Homo sapiens: one gene and its partner. Changing the gene in region 2 together with the main gene of any one other region gives a genetic interaction. Each region holds a gene or a part of one and is shown on either strand. Other genes may lie near its edges. The genes, in order: LRP8 and SLC31A1.

Region 1 (3,921 bases), on a different chromosome or scaffold from region 2:
CTGGATTTCACTCTAACTGGGGGGAAACCATTGAGGGCTCTGAGTAGGGAAGGGACATGGTGTGACATTTTATTCTGACTGCAGTATTGAGAACAGACTGTAGAGGACAAGGGAGAAGGCAGGGAAACCACTTAAGAGGTCATTGCAATAATCCAGAAGCGAGGTGATGGTGGCTGAACCCTTATTCCCACATTATTACTGTGGGAATAATGAAAAGTGGACAGACTGCAGATATAGTGCAAAGGCCAGCCAACAGGATTTGCTTATGAATTGAATGTGGAATGTGGAAAAAAAAGTTACAGCAACTGAAAAAATAAGATTGCTACGTATGGGCTTGGGAAAGATGGTGAGGGAAGCAGGTTTGGAGGAATCTTAGGCTGTTTTGGACATGTTATGTTTAAGAAAACTGGTTAGGTATCCAAGTAGAGATATTGAGAAGGCAGCTGGATATATGAGTCTGGAGTTCATATGCAAGTTAAATACAATATACAACAGATAAATTATAACAATACAGCAGCCATAATACTGACATGTAGCCCATAAACCCAAAAACTGTAACACCCAAACTGTACAATATGTAACTCATACATTAGTATATCACATATAACGTGTAACCTGTTCTTGCCCCCATATAGAACACATGTAATACATGACACAGATTATGTACATGCACTGGAGACAACATGCAACTACCCATGCATATACAAAATCCACACACATGAATATTTCAAGTGCAGTTACATAAAATCTCAAATCATAAACACAGGGGGTTCCTGTCACAGTCACAGCTGTCATTTAAGATCACTCCAACATGCCCCTTTAACCTGGCTCCTGCCTTCAGGGAGGTGAAGTGTCATTACTGTCATTTTGGGGTGAGGGAAATCACAGCTTGTCAGTGGCAGAGCTGGCCTGTAACTCAGCTTTCATCCTTGCCCCTTCCTGCACCTTGAGCCCATTCTCCATGCTATTTGTACCACACTTCTGTCTCACTCCCACCCTGCTTTGAATTAGTCTCCATCACTACACACAGGTCACACACCCAGCCCCAGGCCCTACCTGACTCTGTGCTGGTCCCATCCTCCAGGGAGCACATTAGCTTGGCAAAGATGCACAGTGACAGGGACTGGTGGCTGGCAGAAGTGTCAGCTGGAAAACAAGAGAAGGAGGCACAGGGAGCTTGAGGGGCAGGTGTTACTAGGAGCAGCCCCTCAGACAGTGTTGGTGCCTGAGAGTGGCCCAATACATCTAGAAACAGCCTGTGGGAGCTGGTGCTAGGCCCTCAGAGGCCCATGGGACAGTGTCCTCCCATATGGAGTAGCCAGGAAAGTCTAGGTCACTTATTTATCATCTTAAAATCTAACCCTAAATCTAAGAAAAATACAGGTTTTGTGTATACATGAGCAGTTTATGTTGTCTCTACTGCATATATATAATCTGTGTTGTATATCATATATGTCCCATCTCTGCCATTGGCTCAGGATAGAGAACAAACTCACCCAGCTCATAGGACCTTTTGTGATCTGGCCCCTGCCAATCTCTGAAGCTCATCTCTTGCTATGTCCCCAATACTTTCTATCCTGAATCATCTTTTTTTTTTTCCTTTGAGACAGAGTCTCTGTCACTCAGGCTGGAGTGCAGTGGCACAATCATGGCTCACTGCAGCCTTAACCTCCCGGGCTCAAATGATTCTCCCACTTCAGCCTCCTGAGTAGCTGGGACTACAGGCATGTGCCACCATGCCCAGCTAATTTTTTTTTTATTTTTATTTTTAGAGATGGGATTTTGCCATATTACCCAGGCTAGTCTCAAACTCCTGGCCTCAAGCGATGTGCCAGCCTCAGCCTCCTAAAGTGCTGGGATTACAGGTGTGAGCCACTGTGCCTGGCCCCTAGTTATCTTTCTAAGACACTTACTTGCTCAGGTAGTTCCTTCTTGAACCACAGCAGTAGGGCCCAAGCAGAGAAGATGATAGTTGCTGGAAAGAAATACATAGTAGGTGGAAGGGACAACCTGAGCAAAGGCTCTGAGGCAGGAAGCCCATCCATGGCTAGGTAATGGTATCTGGTAGGTGGAATCAAGCTATGTTGGAGAGGCGAGTAATGAGGCTGGACAGGGAACTTGGGGTCACACTGTGGAAGGCTTTCAGTGCAGGCCTAAGGAGAAAATGGGGAGCCATAAAAGATTTTGGAGAAGTTTGTATCTAATAAAAAGAATAAGAATCTTCCTGCTATGCGTGGTGCTCTGCATCTTCTGCTTTCTGTACTCATTATTTCATCTGCTCCTGCAACCTGTAAAGTAGGAATTGTCACTACTATTTTAAGGAAAATGGATGTGTCAGCCAGCAAGCCAGTGGCAGAGTCTTGGTCTCCAGGCTCCCTGCCTCTTGCACTGACTCTTTCTCTTTCAACCTCCCTGCATGACAGCTGGCAAGAGCCCATCCCTAATCTTCACCAACCGGCACGAGGTGCGGAGGATCGACCTGGTGAAGCGGAACTATTCACGCCTCATCCCCATGCTCAAGAATGTCGTGGCACTAGATGTGGAAGTTGCCACCAATCGCATCTACTGGTGTGACCTCTCCTACCGTAAGATCTATAGGTGAGCGGCCATATCCTCTGCAGCAAGGCATGAAGAGTGGGGGTGAGGGGTGGTGACAGGTGAGGAGGGGAGGAGTGGTGTCTGCCTCTAGAGCTCCTCAGGACAGAGTTGGGACTTGGGAAGAGATGCAGGATCACAGTGGATATGGAACTTCTGGGACTTTACTGGGGCTGGAGTAGTCTGAGGGCTCCCTTGGGTTAGCAGCTTTGAGCCCCAAACACCTGGGATTTGTCTGACCTCTGGAGGCCTAATATGGAAGCACAAGACACAGGAACTGTTTGGCCAGGGCAGAAAGGAAGAAATCCTGGCTTTGGGGAGGACTTTCCAAGCAGCTCACATCCCTGTGTGTTGGAACCTGGGGACTTAGACCTGGTCCCTGCCCAGAGGATCCCACTCACAACACAGTGACATCCATTTGTGATGATCATGAGAAAGTACAGAGGAGGCCTCCGAACCCACCTGGGCATCTGATCTGGCATGCCTTCCTGGATGGCATCACCCCAAGGCCAGCTTTTCACTGTCTTTGACGCCACAGTCAGTGGACCTGGTGCTTGGGAAGCTCTTCACACACTGGAGGAGGTTCTCTCCTAGGACTTTCTCAGATGCCAGCACCTGCCCCACTGCATGTCTGGGCCCTCTTCAGGCAGTCATGTCCTTTCTTTGTCCTGAGATCCACTTGGCAGGAATGCCGATGACCAGGCGCTGGGTAGACACTGAGTCACTGATGAAAGAATGATGGGACAGATGGGTGGAAGAGTGGATGGAAGCAAATATAGCAAGTGCTACTCACTGACAACTAGATTCCTGCCTCCCTGCAACATACAGACACTCCGTTCACACACACCCAAAAACATAACTAGAACAATGCCTGTCCAAGAGATGTAACTGAAAGAGGCAGGATTTGGTGACAGACTAGATATGGGGCTGATGGAAGAAATTTACTCCTTCATAGTGAATTTTGGGAGTTTCAGGTTTTTGGCTTGGGAGGTTTCATGAATGGTGGTGCTGTTCTCTGATGTGTGAAGCAGTAGAGGAGGATCAGGGCTCAGGGTTTGGGCCGTCTGGTTGGCCGAGGGGAAGGGAATGGGGATGAACAGTTTTGGACATATTGAGTTCAAGGTGTCCATGGGACATCCAAGGGGAGCTAGTTAGCTTTGCAGTCTGGATCGTAAGAGAGCTGTTGGGATTGGAGACTTAGTTATTGATGGCAGTGGACACTAAGGAACTAATCACCCAGAGAGAGGGCAAGAAGAAGAAAACCTCTGGGGAAACAGCATTTGCTATTTTGCTAATGTTGCCTCCTGAGTGTCTACTGTATTCTTA
Region 2 (3,921 bases):
ATTACCCAAGTGGGTGGGAAAGGGCCTGCATTGCCCCTCCTATGGCACTCACCATCATCATCATGCTGCTGTCTCCTCCACCATGGGAGTGTGAGGCTGAAGTGGTTGGGTGATGGTGAGAAGGTTGCATGGTACTGTTGGAGTCCATATAGCTCATCCCCATATGGTGGGAATGATCCATTTTTTCCAGGAAAAGTTGAGAGTCAGCAGAAGATTCTTTTAAGAGAAAGAATTATATATAATAATTTAAGGATATAAAAATCTTATCTCTTTTTTTTATTTTTAGAGATGGAATCTTGCTATGTTGCCCAGGCTGGAATGCAATGGCTATTCACAGGCATGATCCCACTACTGATCAGTACAGGAGTTTTGACCTGCTCCATTTCTGATCTAGGCTGGTTCACCAGGCAACCTGGTGGTTCCCTGCTCCTGGGCTTGTTTCTTGGTAAATACTTTGTCTATATGGAATGCATCTAATAAATGAATGCTCTCCTAGCATCTTTACTCAGAATTATTTTTCATAATCTACAGATGGAGAGAGAAAGAACTCGTGCTAATAGGGATCACTTTTGGAGACTGTAGCAGAAAGGGTTTACACGTAGGGCTACAGATGCCTAACCCTTCCTTATTCTGCAGAATTGTTCCTTTTTTTTTGAGACAGGGTCTTGCTCCATCACCCAGGCTGGAGTGCAACTCACCACAGCCTCAACCTCAGCCTCCTGAGTAGGTGGAATCACAGGCCTGCACCACTACCACGCTCAGCTAATTTTTTGTTTTATCGTACAGATGAGGTCTCGTGTTGCCCAGGCAGGTCTCGAACTCCTGAGCTCAAGCAATCCTCTTGCCTTGGCCTCCCAAAGTGTTGGGATTACAGGTGTAAGCCACTGTGCCCCACCAGTATAGTTCCTTTAATAGGTATGCTTAATATATGTTCAAACTTAAATATTAGATAAGGAGAAGGAAAGCAGCTTCTTTGGGTTGCAGGAAACAGGCAATCTGTAATAAGATACAAATGAATGCCATTAATGAAATTTAACTGCTTTAAGGCTTTCTAATCATAAATGTCAGCAGATAAAAAGCAAGGACTTCAGATAATTCACCTAATTGGGATGGCCTGTGCCTAATCAGGATATTTGGATTACATTTTCACATACAGGACAACCAGCCTTCAGCTAATTTAAATTTGAAGAAAGGTCTACTATGGCCCTAGGCACGCAGTGTGCTCAGACTTCAGATACAATTTCAATCCTACCAGGACATTAGAGTGAAGAACATGAAAAACAAGGTATAAATTGGATACTCTATATTAAATTAAGTCTAGACAACTGCAAATTCAGCCTTGTATCTTTACTACCACATCACTGTATTGCTGCAAAAGTCCATCTGGGACATAAACCAAGGAGCAATAATTCCTTTTATTTATTTATTTTTGAGACAGAGTTTTGCATGGTTGCCCAGGCTGGAGTGCAGTGGTGTGATCTCGGCTCACTGCAACCTCTGCCTCCTGGATTCAAGTGACTCTCATGCCTCAGCTTGCCGAGTAGCTGGGATTACAGGTGCATGCTACCACACCTGGCTAATTTTTAAATTTTTAGTAGAGATGGGGTTTCACCATGTTGGCCATGCTGGTCTCAAACTCCTGAGCTCAAGTGATCTGTCCAACTCGGCCTCCCAAAGTACTGGGATTATAGGCTTGAGCTACCGTGCCCGGCCCAGGAACAATAACTCCTATAGCTAGAGTTGGAGTGGGAGAATGGGAAGCTGGTGTGTGTGGAGGGGGAGGTGTTGGTGGATTCTCTTTATGTGTCCCTCAAGTCCAGTCTGTGGAAGAAAAAGTGGTTTTAAAAATTCCAAGTAGGTATTCATGTTCATGAAACCAAGTATGCTTTTCATTATTCATTCACTCAATATTTATCAAGCTCCTATTATATACCAAACTCTGAGCTAGGTGCTAATAATTCAACAATGAATAAGACAAGGTTCCTGATAGGGAGAGAAACAATAAATATAATTTCATGCTGTGAAGGAAATAAGCTGAGAAATAAGACACAATTACCAAGAGGTAAAGAATAAATTGGCCAGGCGCGGTGGCTCATGCCTGTTATCCCAGCACTTTGGGAGGCTGAGGCAGGCAGATCACTTGAGGCCAGGAGTTCGAGACCAGCCTGGCCAACATGATGAAACCCCATCTCTACTAAAACAAAAAAATTAGCCAGGTGTGGTGGCATGCACCTGTAATCCCAGTTACTCGGGTGGCTGAGGCATGAGAATCACTTGAACCTGGGAGGTGGAGGTTTCAGTGAGTCAAGGTTGGACTACCGCACTCCAGCCTAGGTGACAGGAGACTATCTCAAAAAAAAAAAAAAAAAAAGACTGTGGGTAGGAAATTTATATAGATTCAGGGAGCCATCTATTTATTTTCTCCTTGTTAACTCCTACCCCATAGTTCTATGACAGCTGGCTTAAGAAATAGGTTCTTATTTCTAGTGAAGGATAAGGCAAAGCATCAGGTAGGCATAATCAAAGATCCACTTTCATGCCAGACACTACATTATTTTATAATTATAGAGCTCAACAGTGAAACCCCGTCTTTACTAAAAATACAAAAATTAGCTGGGCTTGGTGGCACGCGCCTGTAATCCCAGCTACTCGGGAGGCTGAGGCAGAGAATTGCTCAAACCTGGGAGGCGGAGGTTGTGGTGAGCAGAGATCATGCCACTGCACTCCAGCCTGGTCAGCAGAGCAAGACTCCATTTCAAAAAAAAAAAAAAAAAAAATTACAGAGCTCGACAATCTGGTATTATTGATACCATTACCATAAAGAGATTACATCAGAGGTATAAAAAGATATAAAACAGAGTCTTTGTCTACAATGTTTTTAGAGTAAACACTAAAAAATACAATACACAATAAAATAAAGACCATGCTCAAAGTGTCAGTGATGGGGCAAATGGCAGGTGGGCAGCTGTTTTCAGATAAAGAGGTAATTATGGTAGGATGGAGAGATCACTGGCATCTGAGTGATCATAAATTATGATATTGAACCAAACAAATGCAATAAGAATGAAAAGACTTGGCCAGGCGCGGTGGCTCACGCTTGTAATCCGAGCACTTTGGGAGGCCGAGGCAGGCGGATCACGAGGTTAGGAGATCAAGACCATCCTGGCTAACATGGGTGAAACCCCGTCTCTACTAAAAACACAAAAAAATTAGCCGGGCATGGTGGCGGGTGCCTGTAGTCCCAGCTACTCTGGAGGCTGAGGTAGGAGAATGGCGTGAACCCGGGAGGCGGAGCTTGCAGTAAAGCGAGACCGCGCCACTGCACTCCAGCTTGGGCTACAGAGCAAGACTCCGTCTCAAAAAAAAAAAAAAAAAGAAAAAAAGAAAAGAAAAGACTTTCGCTAGCCAGGAAGACTACTGACACATCCTCATAAAGAGCTAGAGGCAGAAGACACAAATACTGTTCTCTTCCAATGAGAGTCTGAAAAATGATTATAGCATAAGAAAACCACAAAGGATTTACTTCATTCCATATTATCAATATGAATCCTGGTCAGGAGGAGGGAATGAATATTTGCAAGAGTGCCTTCTTAAGACCAAAGGAAATAAAGAAATGAACATCACATGGAGTCTTTCCTCAAGGAGCTTTAAGGCTAAAAGCTAGAAAGGGAAACTGAACAGTCATAATTTTCATTTTGAGATATAAGATAACATGTAGAGGACTGTTAAAAAAGCAAGACTAGGCTGGGTGCGGTGGCTCACCCTGTAATCCCAGCACTTTGGGAGGCCAAGGCGGGCAGATCACCTGAGGTCAGGAGTTCAAGACCAGCCTGACTAAAAACCCCGTCTCTACTGAAAATACAAAAAGTACCCGGACCTAGTGGCAGGCACCTGTAGTCCCAGCTACTTGGGAGGCTGAGG

What was found.
Region 1: changes in SLC31A1 (region 2) and LRP8 are lethal when combined (synthetic lethality), as found in Homo sapiens cells (one study listed by BioGRID).

Annotation. Positions count from the first base shown.
Region 1 is NC_000001.11:53,265,150-53,269,070, reverse strand, and holds part of LRP8 (low-density lipoprotein receptor-related protein 8 isoform 1 precursor), read left to right. Parts: exon of another isoform or gene 1-1,146; intron 1,147-1,913; exon of another isoform or gene 1,914-1,975; intron 1,976-2,423; coding exon 2,424-2,598; intron 2,599-3,057; exon of another isoform or gene 3,058-3,319; intron 3,320-3,921. UniProt on the Homo sapiens protein: Cell surface receptor for Reelin (RELN) and apolipoprotein E (apoE)-containing ligands. LRP8 participates in transmitting the extracellular Reelin signal to intracellular signaling processes, by binding to DAB1 on its cytoplasmic tail.
Region 2 is NC_000009.12:113,252,409-113,256,329, reverse strand, and holds part of SLC31A1 (high affinity copper uptake protein 1), read right to left. Parts: intron 217-3,921; 5' UTR 182-216; coding exon 53-181; intron 1-52.